Homo sapiens: one gene and its partner. The protein of the gene in region 1 interacts with the protein of each later gene in a pairwise test. Each region holds a gene or a part of one and is shown on either strand. Other genes may lie near its edges. The genes, in order: COA3 and SURF1.

The links.
Region 2: the proteins of COA3 (region 1) and SURF1 interact in binary tests that used the Homo sapiens proteins (3 or more experiments, as listed by UniProt).

The regions. Positions count from the first base shown.
Region 1 is NC_000017.11:42,795,889-42,806,285, reverse strand, and holds COA3 (cytochrome c oxidase assembly factor 3 homolog, mitochondrial), read left to right. Parts: upstream 1-7,581; 5' UTR 7,582-7,604; coding exon 7,605-7,818; intron 7,819-8,118; coding exon 8,119-8,225; 3' UTR 8,226-8,661; downstream 8,662-10,397. Other genes in the region: CNTD1 (cyclin N-terminal domain-containing protein 1), read right to left, coding at 402-564, 1,890-2,061, 2,591-2,666, 7,050-7,218; serine/threonine-protein kinase WNK4, read right to left, coding at 9,528-9,805, 9,964-10,163, 10,253-10,397. UniProt on the Homo sapiens protein: Core component of the MITRAC (mitochondrial translation regulation assembly intermediate of cytochrome c oxidase complex) complex, that regulates cytochrome c oxidase assembly.
Region 2 is NC_000009.12:133,352,993-133,363,901, reverse strand, and holds the start of SURF1 (surfeit locus protein 1), read left to right. Parts: upstream 1-7,414; 5' UTR 7,415-7,448; coding exon 7,449-7,502; intron 7,503-7,581; coding exon 7,582-7,633; intron 7,634-8,944; coding exon 8,945-9,078; intron 9,079-9,160; coding exon 9,161-9,243; intron 9,244-9,961; coding exon 9,962-10,153; intron 10,154-10,909. Other genes in the region: SURF4 (surfeit locus protein 4), read left to right, coding at 143-409; SURF2 (surfeit locus protein 2), read right to left, coding at 2,763-2,846, 3,468-3,637, 3,773-3,952, 6,088-6,191, 6,834-6,988, 7,232-7,309. UniProt on the Homo sapiens protein: Component of the MITRAC (mitochondrial translation regulation assembly intermediate of cytochrome c oxidase complex) complex, that regulates cytochrome c oxidase assembly.

The DNA of each region.
Region 1 (10,397 bases):
CTCATTGGCAGGTTCTGCCCACTGTTCCCAAACCCCTGTGCACATTTTTTTTTTTTTTTGAGAAGGAGTCCGCTCTGTTGCTCAGGCTGGAGTGCAGTGGCATGATCTCGGCTCACTGCAACCTACACCTTCCAGGTTCAAGCAATTCTTGTGCCTCAGCCTTCCAAGTAGCTGGGATTACAGGTGCCCACCACCACACCCAGCTAATTTTTGTATTTTTAGTAGAGATGGGGTCTCACTATGTTGCCCAGGCTGGTCTTGAACTCCTGGCCTCAAGTGATCCACCTACCTCAGCCTCCCAAAGTGCTGGGATTACAGGCATGAGCCATGCCCCCCCATGCACATTTTGTATTGCCTTCTATGGAAGTCTCCAACCCATATTCCCTAACACAGTAAGATACCTAAAACCTCTAGGAGCGTCTCCACATATGCCAGGGGAGTGGGCAGATTAATTCGGAAGTTCAAGGACTTCAAAACATCAAGCTCTGATTCCAGCAGTTCTTCTTTAGTGTGTAGATAGCCTAGAGCCTGGAGGAAATTCAAGACTGTAATGTTGCTGATTATCTGAGCAAAGAAAAGAGAGGGAAAGAAGAATGTTAGGATAAAGTTCATACGTCTTGACAGAGTGCACAAAGCCCTTCATAATCCAGCCTATTCCTTCATCTTCAGTCTTGTCTCTTGGTAATTCCCCCTCACACTCTGCTTGTCATTCCAAATTGCTTACAGTTCCCAAACCCACCATGCTGTCCCTCTCCAAGCCACTACACAGGCTGTTTTCTATACCTGGATCTCCCTTCCTTTCCTCCCTAATTCCTCTCCCTCTTCTCTTAGGATCCTCCCATCTCCCACCCACCCCATTTCAAGAAGTCATTTTCTCTAAATACACTTCCTTGACTCTCCAAGGCTGATGAGGTACATTTATAGCCCTCTGTATTTACATTAATCAGAGCTTTTTTTTCCACACTATTTGTATGTGTCTTTTCCCATTACATAATAGGTTCCTTGTGAGCACAGACAATATTTGTACTGTTGTAGCCATGGCACCTGGTGCAGCATCTGGCCATAGAATAAACTCAGAAAGTATTTGTTGAATGAATGATATTTTACTGTATAGGCATTGGGTAGTGATGTGGAAACATTTTTTTCCCTTATAAATGTAATAGTTTGCTTCTACTGTTGATAGGTATGCTGGCAATTCAGGCACCTTATGTAAACTGCCCTTGAGTCCAAGGGGGGAGGAAAGGTGACCAGTATGAATGATGGCATCTGTCCCAATTATACTTTGGGAACAGAACTTCAGGCTATTTAATAACTGCCTCTGTGTGAGTGAGAGGGGGAGAAAGATCATGTGTGTGCGTGTGTGTGTGTAGAAGGTATGCTTAGGAAGCATAATTACACTCTGGAATTTCCATGAGTTGTATCACCTAACCTAGGAGTAGGTTTCTTACAGCTACCTTGTTTTTTTGTTGTTAGTTTTTTTGAGACAGAGTCGCTCTGTCGCCCAGGCTGGAGTACAATGGCACGACCTCAGCTCACTGCAACCTCCGCCTCCCAGGTTCAAGCAATTCTCCTGCCTCAGCCTCCTGAGGAGCTGGAATTACAGGTGTGCGCCACCACACCTGGCTAATTTTTGTATTTTTAGTAGAGACAGGGTTTTACCATGTTGGCAAGGCTGGTCTTGAACTCCTGATCTCAGGTGATCCACCTGCCTCGGCCTCCCAAAGTGCTGGGATTACAGGCATGAGCCACCGCGCCCGGCCGTTGTTTTTACTTTGTAATTTATTTATTTTCTTCTTGTCACTGACTTGAAGCTCATCACAGCCCCCCTTTGTATAAAAGCTGGTTTCTTCCTAACACTCAGGTGCCCATGAGCAACCCCAGCTCCTTACTTTGTTTCGGAAGGAAAGTTTGCTGGCCAGCTGAACACATGACACAAGACGGAGAGTAAACTTGTTGACAAGCTGCTGTTTCAGAGCCCTCCAATTCTGAGACTCTCTCTTATTATCTCTTGGCTGGATTGTGGCTTGCCTGCAGATGTTCTCTGCCTGTTTTACCATAAACCTGTAGGGAAGGGAGGGAGAGTAAACAATCCTCACTCACACAAACTAAAGGGAGTTTAACTTGCTGGTTAAGAAATTTACATTTGAGGCTGAGCATGGTGGCTCACACCTGTAATCCCAGCACTTTGGGAGGCCAAGGCAGGCAGATGACTTGAGCCCAGGAGTTCAAGACCACCCTGGGCAACATGGCAAAAGCCCATCTCTAAAAAAAAAAAAATAGCCAAGTGCGAAGTGTGGAGGCACATGCTTGTAGTCCCAGCTACTCAGGAAGCTGAGGTGGGAGGATCACTTGAGCCCAGGAGGTCAAGGCTGCAGTGAGCCAAGATCCCACCAGGCACTCCAGCCTGGGTGACAGAGCAAGACCCTGTCTCAAAACAACAATAACAACAAAGAAATTTATATTTGCAAGTTAGAGAGGGTGTAAAACCAGGTCTCAGGGTAAGGGGCAACTACTCATACTTTCTTAAAGATGTAGGTACATTAGCCACTCTGAGAGGTGCCGTTCAAAAGGCATTATGCCAGGGCTTTACCTTTCTAGGATTTCTACAGCCTGGTAGCTCACAGATTTCTCCAGACACCATTGTTCAGACAGGAGAAAAACAAACTCTGCCAAAACAGGAAAAAAGAGCCTAATTCACAAGATGCAACCAAAACCACTCTGTGAACTCTTGGCATTGTGTAAAAGCCGTGATGGGGCCAAGGGAAGAGGGTCAGGAGGTGAGAAAGATGAGACTAAAACAACCAAAGCTGAGCTTAGTTTCTTTTGCTGCCAATAGGCAGATCAGAGACATGTAAAGGAGGCTGACTGAGTGCCAAAGACAAGGGCTTACCAAGCCCCCTCAGTGACCCTTGAGCCTTCCTGTGGGTTTCAGCTGATAAAAGGCTTGGCCAGTTACACACAAACATACCAGCTGGTCTATGTGACCTCTACACCATGCTGGGAACCCCCAGCTTCAAGGAAGATTCTTGGATGGATAAAAACCCTAACTCCTATATTCTGTTTTCTGTGGAATGTTGGCAGGAACAGAAAGATCCCTCCTGGAGCTTTGATATTCTTTATGACACTGTTTGTTTAGTAACCACCCTCTGGAGAACTCCCATTGCTTTACAAACACAAGTCACCTTACAGCTGGACACCATCTCTCCACCACCAGTTTGCTGGGTAAATCTGTGGTGGCTGAGCCTCTCCCCAGGAGCAAGTGTGTTACTGTGAAGTGGCTTGTTTTGAAGAAACATCCCCTAAATTGGAGAACATAGCCCAATTTAGGGGGAGGGAGTCATTGGGAAGGTGGGAAGGGTGAGATACCTTGGCAAGATTTTAGCCTGCCTCTGTTTCTCTTTGAAAGAACAGCTCCAGATAGAATTATATTTATCTTGCAATATCATTAGAGGGTGGAAACAAGGGTAAATGTCAGTTCTCAACAAAGAAAGCTCCTACAGACTGAAGACCTTTTAGCATTGATCCGTAGAGAATTACACATTTAGTCAAATAATCATATGTCTTCAGAGAAAACTTAACTTTCTTAGAAAATTTAGTCAAGCTTACACAAGTAACAATCTACTCAACACACATTACACATAGATAGATGTACAAAACCTCATCGTTACAGAGGCTACAGTTTGGCTAGCAATGTCCAATGCAGGACAGAATTAGTTTAAGCAATTCAGCATAATACCCTAGAACATATAATTGTGTCTCTTATTAGTCATTTTATTTGCTGGACTTTAGGCTTTATTTCTTAGTTTTGTTCTTTGTGTATGTGTGCAGTTGTTAAGTTTTGGTTTGGTTTTGCTCTGAATTATCTGAGCATTTGTTTCTGTTTTCCATTTTAATTTGCCAAAAAAACTGAGCTTGGATTAGGTGGAATGGATGAGGGTTACACCTTTCCCTTGCTATTGGCCCCACCTCCTCGATAACAAGCATACTCAGATCTGCTATTAACTAAAAGACCCTCCCCTTTTAACCTCTCTCTTTCCCATCACTGTTGAATTTTTTTTTAAATAAATAAATAAATAAATAATAAATAGACGGGATTGTCCTATGTTGCCCAGGCTGGTCTCAAACTCCTGGGCTCAAGCAATCCTCCCATCTCAGCCTCGCTGTTGAATTACTTGAAAGCCTGGCTTACACACCCACTGCTTCCACTTCATCGTTCACTTCCTAATTTTCTATCTGTTGGCTTCTACCTTTCCTAACTTGCTGAAATGATTCTCAGAGGACAGTAAATATGTCCAAATTGTTAAATATCATGGCTTTTTGCAATCTTTAGTTCTGTTGATATCCCTAAAGCATCTGAAACTTCTGACCATTATCCTTTTCAAAGTCTCCTCTTGGCTGCCAAAAGTCCCTTGGTTCTGTTCCTATCTCCTCCTTTTATTTCCTTCACAAGTCTTCTTACTCCAATTCCCTGAACACAAAGTGTTTTCCCAAGGAACTGTCCTTGACCTGCTTTTCTTTTCTCCTTCTAGGAGCTTATCCTCTGCCACAGTTTCAACAATATCATTGTGAAGATAACTTGAAAACCTTGATCTCCATTTCTGACCTCTCTTCTAACCTACTCTTTGAATAGTCTACAAGAACACTTCTTTTAGATGTTCTGCAAACACCTTAAACTCAGCAGATCCAAAACTAAAGCTATTATACACACACACACACACACACACACACACACATATATTATATATATATATATATATATATATATATATATATATTTTTTTTTTTTTTTTGAGACAAGGTCTCACTCTGTTACCCAGGCTGGAATGCAATGGCGTGATCTTGGCTCACTGCAACCTCTGCCTCCCGGGTTCCAGCCATTCTCCTGCCTCAGCCTCCCAAGTAGCTGGGATTACAGGTACCTGCCACCATGCCTGGCTAATTTTTGTATTTTTAGTAGAGATGGGGTTTCACCATGTTGGCCAGGCTCCAAAGCCATTATTATCTTTCCCAAACAAAAGTCACTTTTCCTCCTGCTTTATTTATGTAGTGTGTCTGTGTTTTTTGTGTTGTTTTTTTTTGTTGTTGTTTTTTTTTTTTTTGGGAGACAGAGTCTTGCTCTGTGGCCTAGGCTGGAGCGCAGTGGCACAATCTTGGCTCACTGCAACCTCCGCCTCCCAGGTTCAAGCCATTCCCCTGCCTCGGCCTCCCGAGTAGCTGGGACTACAGGTGCCTGCCACCATGCCCAGCTAATTTTTGTGTTTTTAATAGAGACAGGGTTTCACTATGTTGGCCAGGCTGGTCTCGAACCCCTGACCTCGTGATCCACCCGCCTCAGCCTCTCAAAGTGTTGGGAATACAGGCGTGAGCCACCGTGCCCGGCCGTGTCTGTGTGTTTCTTTTAATGACCACTATACTTCCAGTCTTCCAGGCTCAACCGTTTAGCATAGTCACGTTTTCCTCCTTCACTTCCTAAATTTATCCACAGCAGAACCCTAGACTTTGCCTCTAGAATGTTTTTAATCCACCCTCCCTTGTTATTCCCTCTGCCCTATCACCTAGCCTACTGACATTGACTCTACCTGTCTGCCTACATCCCATCTCCCTCTGGTTTAATCCATCCTTTACCTCCTTTACATCACTGCCAAAATAATGTTTACTAAGGCAGGGTTACCATCGTATCCCTTATTTTAAAACCTTCACTCCCTTATTTAAAAACCTTCAATGTCTTCTTGGTTTCCTACCAAACCAAGGATAAACTCTTCCCCTTGGCATTCAAACTTCCACATGGAATGTCTCCAAACTACCTTTCCAGTATTAATTTCAACTATTCTTCCACATGCACTGGCCAACATGGACTACACTGTACCCACATGCACCCTAAGCACCCCATTTCCATAGCTTTACTCATGCTACCTCTTTTTGGTAGAAACACTGTCTCCTTCCTCCCCCTTCACCAACCCAATGTCCTCCTTCCTTCAAGGTCTGCCTGAAATGTCCCGATGCCTGGGCCATCCCCTGAATTCTTCCTATTACCCCATCGCTCCTCTCAACCCCCATAAACGCTTGTTTTATTTCTCTCTGACGTCTCTTATCTAACCATAGTACCTAGTCATTGCATATTTGTTCTAATATCTCCCCCAAATTGCACATGGTTTGAAGGCAAGACCTCTATCTCTATTTCATCTTTCTTTTCTCTTTTTTTTTTTTTTTTTTTTTAGACAGAGTCTCGCTCTGTCACCCGTCACTCAGGCTGGAGTGTAGTGGCGCCATCTCAGCTCACTGCAAGCTCCGCCTCCCGGGTTCATGCCATTCTCCTCCCTCAGCCTCCGGAGTAGCTGGGACTACAGGCGCCCGCCACCACACCCGGCTTTTTTTTGTATTTTTAGTAGAGACGGGGTTTCACCATGTTAGCCAGGATGGTCTCGATCTCCTGACCTCGTGATCTGCCCGCCTCAGCCTCCCAAAATGCTGGGATTACAGGCGTGAGCCACCGCGCCCAGCCTTTTTTTTTTTTTTTTTTTTTTTTTTTTTTTGAGACGGAGTTTCATTCTTGTCGTCTAGGCTGAAGTGCAATGGCACGATTTCGGCTCACTGCAACTTCCGCCTCCTGGGTTCAAACAGTTCTCCTGTCTCAACCTCCCGAGTAGCTGGGATTAGAGGTGCGCGCCACCAGTCCTGGCTAATTTTTGTACTTTTAGTAGAGACAGGATTTCACCATGTTGGTCAGGCTGGTCTCGAACTCCTGACCTCAGGTGAACCTCCCACCTCAGCCTCCCAAAGTGCTGGGATTACAGGTGTAAGCCACCATGCCTGGCCCTCTATTTCATCTTTCTAGCCAAGCGGTGCCACTCAAGTATTCCATACATGTCGAAGAAATCAAGGGGAGGGCACTGTTGTGACTTATCCATCACTATATCCCCAGCACCCCACAGAGAGGTGTTAGCAAACATTCTCTGAATGAATAAAATCAACGGAATCTCAAGGTCGGTGCCTGAAAGACACAAGCCCCAGTCTCCCAAGAACCCAGCACCCCGGCCCTGCAGCCGCACCCACGATCTGGGGCTCCCTGAAGCGGCCCAGCCGCCCCGAAGCCTCCCTCACTGCTTGCTCATTCTGCTGGGCCAAGTGAAGCAGGGCGTCTTCAATCGTCTCTGTGGCGACAACTCCAAACTGAAAGTCAACGAGGGAGGCCGATCGTGGCCTCATGGGTCCGTCCATATTCACGAGCCTCTTGGGGCACCTGGACGGGTTCACTGGATCCACATACCGACCCCCTTAGCTCCTCTCCAGTCTTCTGCCACACCCTGGATTCCTCGTCCCCTTCCAATGAGTGTGTCGTCGCCTCAAGTCTGAGGAAAACCCAATTACCACCACAGCCTCGAACCCTCCACAGCTTTTTCCCGCCCCAACGGCCACGGACTCCTCAGCCAATCAGAAAGCACGTCCGCTTCTCACCTCCCGCGTCCATCCCCTGTGCCCGGGAACCGCGGCTCTGCCCCGCAAAGGGCACGCGGACTACAACTCCCAGAGTCCACTGCAGCGGCCAAGGGCTACTGTTCCCAGCGAGGCCCGCGCGGCGGCACCGCGAAGGGAGGAGTGGCAACATGGCGTCTTCGGGAGCTGGTGACCCTCTGGATTCTAAGCGTGGAGAGGCCCCGTTCGCTCAGCGTATCGACCCGACTCGGGAGAAGCTGACACCCGAGCAACTGCATTCCATGCGGCAGGCGGAGCTTGCCCAGTGGCAGAAGGTCCTACCACGGCGGCGAACCCGGAACATCGTGACCGGCCTAGGCATCGGGGCCCTGGTGTTGGCTATTTGTATCCGTCCGTGTTGTAGACTCAAGGGGACCGCATATAGGGGCAGGGGAACAGAGTGTGCAAGAGGGCTGAACCACCCGTTTAATTTTGGGGTAAAATGGGTAGTACTTTCCTTTGTTATTCCTAAGGTACTCTTTTAATTTGATTTATTAATAATAACGGAATTGGGGTTCAGGGTTTAGAAACAGCAGCGGCGGGAAGCCGGAATCACTGATTTGGGAGAGTAACAAGAGTGGTAGAGCAAATCTAGGAAAGGGGAATGTGCATATTCTGTGTGGTTTCCTGAACCTACCTCCCCAGATGGTTACACCTTCTACTCGATTTCCCAGGAGCGTTTCCTAGATGAGCTAGAAGACGAGGCCAAAGCTGCCCGAGCCCGAGCTCTGGCAAGGGCGTCAGGGTCCTAATCTGGATGGGTATTGATCATGTCCAACCTGCTGGAGCCCCTTCACATGGTGGATGATGCCCCATGACCCTGTAGAAATTGAATCCTGCTCACAACATTGTTGGCCTTCTTACTAACCTTGGACCGTGATTGAGCCCAAGAAACCAGGGACTTACGCATTTGGCCAATGTCAAAAGAACAGAACTTTGCCCACTGCACACTTGCTGTGTACAATGACTGAGCCCTTTCTTGTAGTTTGTTTCCTTGTTTGAGAGGTGTGCATGCGACCGTGGCTTTTCCCAAAGTTTCTGACTTTGTGGTTTACCCCCTTCACCTTCCAGGGACGCAGTTGTTACGAGGTTAGACGTGGCAGCTCTGTGCAGTGTTTGAGCCTACAGTGGGATACATAGGGTCAAATTGAGAATAATAAACTGAGTCATTCTCCTGGAGTCAAGTGAGTATGGAGGCTGAGAGGCAGCATATGGCACTTCATGCTGGAAAGCTTCACAAGCAGTAGCTGCAGTGGTGGCATTGCCCCAGGGAGCTGTAAATGTTTAACTAGAATTACTTTTTCCATGAGATCTTTCCACCTGATTTAAGGGAGAGATCACTGGGCAGTTTGAGACTGAACCCACGTCTTAGGGGAAGGAAGGTCACTCTTCTGTCCTCTACCCACAAGAACATACTGTAACTCTACTGCTTTTCCCATCCCCAGAGAGAGGGAGGGAGAGAGAGGTGGATGAAGGGTGAAAGACAAGCAGTCTTCATTCTTTTAACTTTCCCTGGTACCTGCCTATACAGGTCTAGGGTGGGGTCTGGAGGGGATCCTAACTTAGTCAAGTGGATCACTGACCTTGCAGTTTCCTCATTAACTGATGGCAGGAAGCCAGAGGGCTGGGCAGCTTCCACCCCTGCCTCCCATTGTGAAAAGAAAGTCCCTTTTAAATCCTCCCCTGCCTCACCCCACAAGTCTTTGCTCCCCCAATTCCTAAGGCATGGCATATGGATTCACGGCGTTCTTGTTTCCAGCATTTTTATTGGTTGCTGCTAATGTGGTGTGAGCATATCCCCTACACTCTCCCAGCTGGGAGTGGGCCCCTCTAGAAGCATCCAGGCTTGGGTGGGATTGCTTAGTGGTTGACTCTTGGCAGGGGAGGTGCTAGAGATGAAGATGGTAGGCAGCAGAACTAACACCTCCACACAGCAAACAGTTCACATATGTTTGGCTCTTCACTATAATGGAGCTGCACTCTCCATGCCCCCCTGGCCTTCTACCCCTTCAGTGTTGGGATCTTCCTTGCTCAGTTTTGTTGATCAGAAAGCATCAGATTCTGAGAACACAAGCTCCATGGTGGGCCCTGGTGTGGGGGAGATACATGGCTTCTGTTCTGAATTCACTGGAGGGAAAAGAAAAAGTGATGAAGAAACCTCCAAGGTGGGAGGAAGGCGAAGCTGCAGCCAGGTACCATTCCCTGGGCTCTCCCTCCCTTGGGCCCGCCCTCACCATCCTGCCAACATCCCCGGCGAATGTCACCCCCTTGCTTGCCCGCTGCTCCTGGGAGCCGGTGCTGCTGCCACTCAGAGAGTTCCTTCGCATGATGCCTGGGAGCAGGATGGGGGAAGGAGAGCACTAAGTGAGGAAAGGGGAGGTGGGGAGAGGGGGTCTATTCCCCCGGGGCAGACCCCCAGGGCCTGGAGAAAAACAGTCGACAGAAAGGGGTCTCAGGGAAAAGATGGAAGCTGGGTGACTGCAGTCTCACCAGGGCCTGGGGGCTCAGAGCGCTGTAGGCTGTTGCGGCGGGAGGTGGGGAAGCTGCCCTTGGAGAGGCGGCGCTGGCGGCTGGACAGCATAGCAGCTGGGGCCACAATACCCGGTGGGGGCTGCTTCCCCAGCCGGCTGTACAAATCTTCAATTTCTTTTTTCTGTAGTGTCTGTAGTGTTTCCACCTCTGACAAGTGCCTGAGGATGCACGGAGGGCATGAAAGGGCTAGCCACACACCTTGCTCTCCCAGGTTCTCCTCTCACTCCTCCATCCTCCCGAGACTCACTTCTGCCGAAGACTCTGCAGCTCAGCCCAGAACTCCTCATCTTCCCCACTGCTTTCTGACTCCTCGCTGCTCAAACACAGGCTGCTGTAGGAGTAGTTCATCCACACTGGGCTGGGATGGCTCAGGGGTTGGGGGCTGCCCCCAA
Region 2 (10,909 bases), on another chromosome or scaffold:
TTGCACCAGCAGCCGTCTCAGCAGTAGCTACATCAGCCTGATGGATAGAGACTTCATGACGTGCAGCAGCTGGAACTTTTGTTTATAAAGCATCTCTTTTCCTCACATTTATTTTGAATTTCTTACGTTTCAACCTATGCAGATTGTCCAGAACATCGTGGGCACAGCTCTGATGATTTTAGTGGCCATTGGTTTTAAAACCAAGCTGGCTGCTTTGACTCTTGTTGTGTGGCTCTTTGCCATCAACGTATATTTCAACGCCTTCTGGACCATTCCAGTCTACAAGCCCATGCATGACTTCCTGAAATACGACTTCTTCCAGACCATGTCGGTGATTGGGGGCTTGCTCCTGGTGGTGGCCCTGGGCCCTGGGGGTGTCTCCATGGATGAGAAGAAGAAGGAGTGGTAACAGTCACAGATCCCTACCTGCCTGGCTAAGACCCGTGGCCGTCAAGGACTGGTTCGGGGTGGATTCAACAAAACTGCCAGCTTTTATGTATCCTCTTCCCTTCCCCTCCCTTGGTAAAGGCACAGATGTTTTGAGAACTTTATTTGCAGAGACACCTGAGAATCGATGGCTCAGTCTGCTCTGGAGCCACAGTCTGGCGTCTGACCCTTCAGTGCAGGCCAGCCTGGCAGCTGGAAGCCTCCCCCACGCCGAGGCTTTGGAGTGAACAGCCCGCTTGGCTGTGGCATCTCAGTCCTATTTTTGAGTTTTTTTGTGGGGGTACAGGAGGGGGCCTTCAAGCTGTACTGTGAGCAGACGCATTGGTATTATCATTCAAAGCAGTCTCCCTCTTATTTGTAAGTTTACATTTTTAGCGGAAACTACTAAATTATTTTGGGTGGTTCAGCCAAACCTCAAAACAGTTAATCTCCCTGGTTTAAAATCACACCAGTGGCTTTGATGTTGTTTCTGCCCCGCATTGTATTTTATAGGAATAGTGAAAACATTTAGGGACACCCAAAGAATGATGCAGTATTAAAGGGGTGGTAGAAGCTGCTGTTTATGATAAAAGTCATCGGTCAGAAAATCAGCTTGGATTGGTGCCAAGTGTTTTATTGGGTAACACCCTGGGAGTTTTAGTAGCTTGAGGCAAGGTGGAGGGGCAAGAAGTCCTTGGGGAAGCTGCTGGTCTGGGTGCTGCTGGCCTCCAAGCTGGCAGTGGGAAGGGCTAGTGAGACCACACAGGGGTAGCCCCAGCAGCAGCACCCTGCAAGCCAGCCTGGCCAGCTGCTCAGACCAGCTTGCAGAGCCGCAGCCGCTGTGGGCAGGGGGTGTGGCAGGAGCTCCCAGCACTGGAGACCCACGGACTCAACCCAGTTACCTCACATGGGGCCTTTTCTGAGCAAGGTCTCGAAAGCGCAGGCCGCCCTGGCTGAGCAGCACCGCCCTTTCCCAGCTGCACTCGCCCTGTGGACAGCCCCGACACACCACTTTCCTGAGGCTGTCGCTCACTCAGATTGTCCGTTTGCTATGCCGAATGCAGCCAAAATTCCTTTTTACAATTTGTGATGCCTTACCGATTTGATCTTAATCCTGTATTTAAAGTTTTCTAACACTGCCTTATACTGTGTTTCTCTTTTTGGGGGAGCTTAACTGCTTGTTGCTCCCTGTCGTCTGCACCATAGTAAATGCCACAAGGGTAGTCGAACACCTCTCTGGCCCCTAGACCTATCTGGGGACAGGCTGGCTCAGCCTGTCTCCAGGGCTGCTGCGGCCCAGCCCCGAGCCTGCCTCCCTCTTGGCCTCTCATCCATTGGCTCTGCAGGGCAGGGGTGAGGCAGGTTTCTGCTCATAAGTGCTTTTGGAAGTCACCTACCTTTTTAACACAGCCGAACTAGTCCCAACGCGTTTGCAAATATTCCCCTGGTAGCCTACTTCCTTACCCCCGAATATTGGTAAGATCGAGCAATGGCTTCAGGACATGGGTTCTCTTCTCCTGTGATCATTCAAGTGCTCACTGCATGAAGACTGGCTTGTCTCAGTGTTTCAACCTCACCAGGGCTGTCTCTTGGTCCACACCTCGCTCCCTGTTAGTGCCGTATGACAGCCCCCATCAAATGACCTTGGCCAAGTCACGGTTTCTCTGTGGTCAAGGTTGGTTGGCTGATTGGTGGAAAGTAGGGTGGACCAAAGGAGGCCACGTGAGCAGTCAGCACCAGTTCTGCACCAGCAGCGCCTCCGTCCTAGTGGGTGTTCCTGTTTCTCCTGGCCCTGGGTGGGCTAGGGCCTGATTCGGGAAGATGCCTTTGCAGGGAGGGGAGGATAAGTGGGATCTACCAATTGATTCTGGCAAAACAATTTCTAAGATTTTTTTGCTTTATGTGGGAAACAGATCTAAATCTCATTTTATGCTGTATTTTATATCTTAGTTGTGTTTGAAAACGTTTTGATTTTTGGAAACACATCAAAATAAATAATGGCGTTTGTTGTATGCAGTGTGATCCTATAGCGTTGCCCAGCCTGAATGGGGCTCCCCTCAGGATGCCAGTGAGCGAGGTTACTTCTCTAGGCTTCTCTGAAGACCACTCAGAAGCCATGTCCAGAGAGAATTAGTCCCTCAGAGTCCCTGCTGCTTCCTGGGTGTGGGGGACAGACTCCCTCAGCCCTGCCTTAGAGGGCAGCAGATGTCATGAGACAAGGATAAGTGGGTAGAGAAGACACTGGGGACAGCCGATCATTCAGAGGACACACGGTTTGATCAGGAGCGGGGGAAATATCTGAAGGCTTTCTCGAAACTTCACGGCATGTGCTTTTATTAACCTGGCTGTTTACAGGAGCTGAAGCTCTTGGGTTTGCGGTGATGACTCTTGAACTTCTTTTTCAACGAGCCCAACTGCTTCTGTGGGATAAACAAAATTCTGATTACTGAGCCTTTCTGATCCCATGGAGAAGGGGCCCTGGAGTGCAGGGCTCTCCCCACCCACACAGCCTCAGAGGTGTCGGTCAAATACCCACAGAGGCTTTCTCCACCCCCGTTTCCTTAACAGCTGCAGGATTAGACCCCGCTCAGCAGGGCCTCAGAGGAGTACAGTGCAATGCCACACACTCATTAGGACCTTGTCCTCTTTTGGCCTTGGTCCTGCTTATCTACCAAAGGCGGGGAAGTCTCCACTCCTGCCCTGATGGCAAAGGCAAAGGTGGTGGCTAGTAATCAGGTCCCTGTGCCCAGGGGTAAGGACAAACACGCCACAGCTCATAGTCTGAGGTAGGAGGGTGTCCTCACAAACCAGTGGTCTTGACCGTGGTCCACAGAGCCTGGCTTCCACAAGGGGCTGGCTGGGAAGCAATGGTAGGCACTCACGGCCTTCCGCCAGCCAGCGGCCTCGGCTTCTATGGTTCTTGTGTGTTGTTGGCTTGGGATTTCACTTGTGAAAAAGGTTCAGTTTTCTTTTTTTAAACAAATGGAAAACCATCACTAGGGGAAGCCACTGCCACACTAACAGAGGAGGTGACAGCTCACCTTCCCGCGCTTCTGGACCAGCCCTCGGTACACGGTCGTCTCTCTCCTGCCCTCATCAGTGGCCTTCTCTCTTGGGGGCTTTGCCTTCTCATCCTCTTTGTCTGTCAAAAAGTCATCAGTGCCATCCCCATCCTCCGTGCTTCCAAGGTCCTTTCTGGTGAATAGCTCAGCTGGGAGGAACACAGGGATTGGCTGACAGTTATTTTAGGCTGAGTTCGCTGCCACCTTTGCAGGGGAGGCAGCACCACAGTCTGCTCCCTGCTGACAGTAGAGGGTCAGGGAGAAGCAGGGCCTGTTCTGCTTACGTGGGTACAGGTCTGTCATGCTGTCATCACTTGCAGCTCCCCCCTCATCACTGGATGTGGGCTCCCAGAAGGCTTCCCGCGGGCGAGGCCCGTCACCGTCCATCTGGTCCTCCCTCCTCCTCCTCCGGTGCACCAGGCAGGCAGGCACGTACTCCACCCCTTGCTTCTGACATTCTTCATCTGGGAGATAAGCCAGCACGTGCTGGGTACCTCCACACCCCCCACGGTCCTCTGGGCCACAGCTAACTTATGAGGACTGCACTCGGCCAGGGCCCCACAGCCCCACCGCCCTGGACAAAAACCAGAGCAGCTGCTGGGTGCCTCAGCTCTGTTCCTACCAGGTGTGCAGGGAGGGTGGTGGGCCAGGGCTGCAGCCAGGAGGCAAGAAGATGGTAGAGGTCTACGGGGCCTTTACCACTCATCCCCGATCTAGCCAGGCCTAGGAAGCCACGGCTAGGAGGGCACTGACCAGGCCCAAGGCCAACTGTGCCCCAGTGAGCTTGGCATGGCCTCTCAAAGGCAACTCGGGCTGGCAGTGATGCCACCCTCTCCCCAGCAGCCTGAAGTCCTCCCTCAGCACATGGGAGACCCCGTCCCGGAGGGCGGGGCTCAGTGGAGGTTGGCTGCCTGGCCTTTGCTGCCCCTTAGTGGGTGAGAAGGGAGTTGGGACAAGGCTTCCATGGAAAGACCTCACTGGAGTCACCACCGTTGTCCCCTTGTATATTGGAGGGTCTGCTGGGGCTTGCCCTCCAGCCCAGCGCAGCTACCATCATCATCCCTCATGGGCTGCATGAGCCCTGCTGGGCCCTGGCCATTGATGTGGCGGCCCATCTCCAGGGCTGTTTCCCTCCTTGTCTCTGCCACCCACCCCCATGGCCATGCAGCAGCCTTGTCACCACCAGAACGTGAAGGCAGAGCCCCCTTACAGCCACGTTTGGACTTCCCTGGACCACTGCCTTGCAGTGACCTCGGCGCCCCAGTCCCATCTCAGCTCCACAGTCCACCATCATAACCATTCTTCATGGGAACCCCGTGGCCCCCTGCACTTAGAGCCTTCCTGCCCACCCCTGAGCAGCTAACACACTGGCTGGAAAAAGTCCAAGCCTCAGGCTGGCAGCCCTTGTGCCTGCAAGGCCTCTGCAAGGTGCCCGCCTTCTACTTGAGAAACCCTGGTCCTGCCTTCTCAATCCACACTCATGCTTCGGGAGGGCTGGACTGCCTCTCCGCACTCATCAGAAGCCCGTAGACGCATCTTCCCATCCGCAAACCAACCTGAATCTGTCCGCTCCAGCCTCTGTCCATTTCCCTCCTTAGCTGGACTCCAGAAAGGCTTTCTGGTGACCCAGCACCTGCCTAAGGCCGGACACTGCCCTCATGGGCTGCAGCCTACGCTCCACTCTAGCCAGGTGTCCCTGCCAAGCTTCAGGTGCCTCACCAAGGTTGCCAGGGGCCTCTGTGTTATCAAATCTATCATTTTTCTGTCCTCATCTTCCCTTCAGTACCACGGGAGGACTTCCAGCCTCTTCCTGGGGCTCAGGACCAGGCCTCTCTCCCTTCTCTAAACTCTCGCCGGGTGCTCACCCAGATCCACGGTGCAACCATCTCCTTCATCCAGCACGGGTGTCCCTGTTTCAAAAGCCCGATACTTCCCTAATACACACCTTTCCTAATACAGCTCAAGCTTAAAACCTTCAAAGGGACTCTGAATTCTCCCCCCAAAACCCACCGTCTTTTCCTGGATGACCGCAGTCAAGGAGTCCTCCCTTCTCAACCATGCACACTGTCCATGCAGCCCCCACCCAACCCTCTCCACACACCCACTGCAGTGCTCCTGGCCTGGTCTCTGGGTCATCCGGGCTGTGCACACTAGCCCAGCCAGTCCTTTGGAGCCTACCTCAGCCAACACATTTTTGCCTCAGACTTCCATGGACCCTGGCTTCTCCCTGGGGTGCTGTTCCCCCGACCCCACTGCCACCACATCCCTCCAGCCTCAGCCTCGAGCGAATCCCTCAGCGAGTCTCCCCAGCCCTCCTGTCTCCGCAAGCCCACCCCACATCCCTCGCCCAGTTTCTTTCACACCTCGCATTGCCACGCACACTCACTCACTCCCGAGCCTGCTTCTGGCTCTGTGCCTGCCTGCACTAAAAGCTGTGGGGTCAGGGGCCATCATCCCTCTCTTCACTGTGCCAAAAAACAGGCCTGATGCATCAACACGGATCGCTGAAGGACGACCTGCCTTCAAGCACGCTCCATCTGGGGCAAGGCGGGCATGCACTCAGATGGCGATGCACTGATGGGGGTCCACTGGGACTTACATTTACACAGAGCTCGCTGGTACCGCCGGCCCTGGGTGTGCCTCAGCACGTGTTCTGGGCACTTGTTGATGTGCCGCAGGGTGAGTTTGCAGAACAACTGGTGCCTACAGAGCAGAGAGACCAAATTTGTAGGGACAGTTCACAGCAAGGATTCAGACTGGTGGCTGTGTCTTGGACTCATCCCTGGACAGTCTACCATGCGGCTTGGACATCGGGCTTTTAAAGGCTCCCGGAGCAATTCCACTCTGAAGCTGGGTGGGGAACCGTCTGACCCAGGCCGACTGCAGCCTCTTAATGTTTACCGGAAAAGCACGCATGGCAGCCTCACTGACTGCTCCAGGATGAGTTCATGCAAGAGGATGGCTCCACCTGGAGCAAGGGCTCAATGAATGGAAACATCCTATCTCTGTTTTGACGATTATTACAAAGCCTAGCTCCCAGCTAAATCAAAGACCCCTTCTGGGGTTAAGGGAAGAACCCAACGCTGTTCACAACCTCAGGTGACAAATCACAAGCCTCTACTCATCTGGGAAGCAGCCACACCCCACAGGACAAACCTCAGGTGAGCAAACGAGCTCACCAAGAGGCCTCGCCGCTGGGACCGCAGGTGATTCCAGCACCCGGGCGCCCACCTGGGTCCCAGGGCTCCCAACTCTGAAAGAGTAGGGGCTGCAGCACTGGCGGAGTCCAGCGGAGGGGCTGTCCTAATTGCCCTGGGCCTCCCCGCGCCGCCGCGGACCACCTACGGGTTCTTGGTGCTGGGCACGATGTGCGGCTCGAACTCTGCATAGTCGAAGGCCGGGGAGGCGCGGACCAGCCGCTGGTACTTTTTGCCGCGGGTGTAGACCTGGAGCTCCGGCAGGCGGCAGGGCAGCTCGTGACCTGTCAGGATGCACCTCACCTGCGGACGCGTGGGCGGGCAGGACGTCAGGAGGGCCAGGGCTCCGCTCCCTGGTGCCCCCTCCTGCCGCGCCCCCTTCCCTCTCCTCCCCTGATCCCGCCGCGCCCTCTCCCCTGCCCTCCCCTCTCTCCTGCTCTCCCCTCTCCCCTCTCCCCTGCCCTCTCCTCTCCCCTGCCCTCCCCTCAGCCCCTCATCCCAACTGCGCCCTTCTCCGCCACTCCGTTCCCCTCCCGCGCTGCGAACCTTGCGGGCGTCCGTCTGGAGCCGCAGGCTCGGGTGCTCCCGCAGAAACGCCCGCACGTCGCCCGGCAACTCGCTCATGGCCGACGCGCCCGCGGAGCAGCCCGGCGGAAGCCGCTCGCAGAACCTGGAGCCGGGGGCGGGGCTCTGGGCGGGACTCAGCGGCGCCCCGGATGCAGATGCTTCCTGCGTCCCGGAAGCGCCCGCGGGGCCGGGTGCGATGGCGGCGGTGGCTGCGTTGCAGCTGGGGCTGCGGGCGGCGGGGCTGGGACGGGTGAGCGCCGGGTGCGGGGTGCGGGGTGCGGGGCGCGGGGAGGGGTCCCGGAGCTCAGCCCGCCCGTCCGTGTCCGCAGGCCCCGGCCAGCGCCGCCTGGAGGAGCGTCCTCAGGGTCTCCCCGCGCCCAGGTGAGGGCTGCAGGCCGGGCTGTGATCCAGGCGCCTGGGCAGAGCCACCTGCTGTCTGCCCTGCACTTTGAAGGGTTGTCGTGGGGATTGAAATGAACCAACTGCCGGCTGAGCGGAGGCTCCCTGGGAGTGACAAGTTCCGTATTAAAATGCTTTCAGTGGAATTGTGGTCGTGTGCCGGGCATGTAGCGAGCGCTTTGTCCTCACAACGCGAGAGGTAGCTCCTTGGTCGTTCCCCTGTTACAGAGAAGGCTCGAGAGTTACTTCCGAACGTCCCATCCAGCTAATGGGTGGCCAGCCCAGGCTGAAAGCCCAGGGCTCTGAAAGTAAAGCGTATCTAACCACCGCGGCTTACGTGTTCCTCTCAGTGTGCAGCACAGGGCTGTTTTGCCGTGTGTAGAGTGCTGTGCAAGCCTGCCCCAGGCCTGCCTTTTTATAAAAAAAAAAAAAAAAATAGTATCCGCAAGGCCCCTGGTGCTTTTCAGCGGATGGAACTCATCCTCTGAGAGCTTAAAGGCACTTTCTGTGTACATTCTTCCCTCTTTACATTTACGATGAGTTGTAAAAATGGAAAGCTGTTAAGAGAGCTCTGTGAGCCATTACTGAATTGATATATTTTTCTACATAACACAACAACCACTAGTGCCTGACTAAGCTACTTAGTAACTGTAGCTGCTTATTTTTTATTTTTTGAGACAGTTTCGCTCTTGTTGCCCAGGCTGGAGTGCAGTGGCGCAATCTCGGCTTACAGCAACCACCTCCTCCCAGGTTCAAGCGATTCTCCTGCCTCAGCCTCCCGAGTAGCTGGGATTACAGAAGCACCATCGTGCTCAGCTAATTTTTGCATTTTTTTGTAGAGATGGGGTTTCTGCATGTTGGTCAGGCTGGTCTCGAACTCCTGATCTCGTGATCCGCCCGCCTTGGCCTCCCAAAGTGCTGGGATTACAGGCGTGAGCCACCGTGCCCGGCCAACTGTAGCTGCTTATTAAATGCATTTTGAATGGATGAATGGTGCATCTTAGTGCAGTGGAATACATCTAGATTCTTGAGTAAAAAGGCATGAGTTACTCAGGGTCGTGGTTGGTGGTCAAACCGGCACTGAGCCCTAGATCCCACTTACTCACTTGGCAGACGTACTGTGTGTGCCTTGTTCTGGGCACCGGGTTAGGAGCTGGGCTGGATACAGGTGCTGCTAGTTGGCTCTAGGCAGCAGGTTTTGATTGGCAGTACTGGAGTCTGTCTTGGAACGGGCTGCTCCAGGTCTGTGTTCGAGGGCTTCTGGCTCCATGTCAGTGTTGTGAAACTCTCCAGGGGTGGCCTGGAGGCCAAGCAGATGTGGCAGTTCTGCAGCAGAAGCATCTGCCACAAAAGCGGAAGATGACTCCTTTCTTCAGTGGGTCCTGCTCCTCATCCCTGTGACTGCCTTTGGCTTGGGGACATGGCAGGTAAAGACCGGCATCTGGTGTGCGTAACTCTGGGCCCTTGACCTTGCTGCCATCTGCTTGGCCTTATGCTCTGTCACTGTAGGTCCAGCGTCGGAAGTGGAAGCTGAACCTGATTGCAGAGTTGGAGTCCAGAGTTCTGGCTGAGCCTGTCCCTCTGCCAGCCGAGTGAGTGCATGGCTGCCCCCCTAGGGCCTGTTTTACTTGAGTTCAACAGCAGAGCCCTGGCTTCTGCTGGCCAGCTTGCCCCTTTTGGTGGGACTTTTAGTCACTGCCTTGACCTCAGGTGGGAGCTCTCATTATCAGTCATCTGTTGGGCTTGCTGTTGACACCTGACTGCCCTTGTGAAGCTACCTGAGACCGCCTCCTGACATATGGAGGAAAGTCTTATTTTGAGTCCTGGGTGTCACCCTTTTTTCAGGTATAGTAAACTTATCCTCCACAGGGCCCAAGGCCCTGTGGCTGAGGACAGATAATGTAGGTCTCACCGTGAGGGTGGTCGTTTGAAAAAGTGCCCTGAATGATTTGTCTGCTCTCTCCCTAGAATATGCCCTACAGAGATAGGTATATTCAGCCACATTTTCCATTCAGGGTAGCAAACAGTATGCCAGATTTGGCTTGCAGATGGGGTTTTGGCCCACATATTTTTTAAAATTTCACATAAAATATTCATTGAGGAGTCCAGATTTTTAGCCTCTCTTGTAAAGTTGGACTCTGGCAGTGCAGATCCACATTCCCACATGGCATCAAAGTTCCCCTTTGAAGAGCACGCCCTTTGCCTTTCTCCTTCACTTGTCTGGCCCTGGTGGGCTGTGTAGTCTGCCACCCTCAGGGGATTCGTTTTCCAGCCAAACCTTGCTCGGCCACTGTTCTTATCTCCATGCAGCCCAATGGAACTGAAAAATCTGGAGTATAGGCCAGTGAAGGTCAGGGGGTGCTTTGACCATTCCAAGGAGCTGTATATGATGCCCCGGACCATGGTGGACCCTGTCCGGGAGGCCCGGGAGGGCGGCCTCATCTCCTCCTCAACTCAGAGTGGGGCCTATGTGGTCACTCCCTTCCACTGCACCGACCTGGGGTGAGTAGGACATGTGGGAGCTGGCTGTCCTGGCAGAGGCAGTCAGGGTATACTAATTTACATCACTATTTCCTTCACAATCCCCAACCTTGGTAGGACCCTGGGGAACCCAAGATACCCAGGAGATTCAATTCCTTGCATAGTTTAAGTCCCTAATTGTGACATTGACTTAATCTTCTCAGCCAGCTCATTTATGACTGGATAATTTCTGTATGTTGACCTCTGAAGGGAAAGGAGGGATTCGTGAAACAGGGGCCCTGCCTCTGGAGAACTGTCTAGTTGCCCACACATTAGATGATGGCAAGCTATGAGGGGCCAGCAAGAGGACTTCAAGAGAAAGGACCCCAGCCCTACCTTGAGGGAGTGGAGGCAGGGGTGGCTCCCTAGAGGGCTATTTGGGAGTTAAGAGATGGGAAGAACATTCCAGGCAAAGCAAATGACAGGTACAGGAGCACCTGTGTGATTAACTAGGGAACTGGAGGATTCACGTAAAAATGAAAATACCTGGGGCTCTTGTTAACCCATGGGTTCCTGTTTTAGGGCTGGGATGGGGCCCAAGTACTCATCTCCAGCAGGCTGGGGTGCCAGGGCTGCTCCTCACGGCTGCCTTGGTTAGGAGGAGGGATTGGAGACAGCTCTTGCCATAGTTCAGGGGAGAGGTGTGGGGTCTAAACTCTGGCGTGGCAGCGTTGCTCACCAGTTGCACGTTGTAGTAGGTAGACCACAAGAAGCAGAGATAGAAGGGGAAAGCCACAC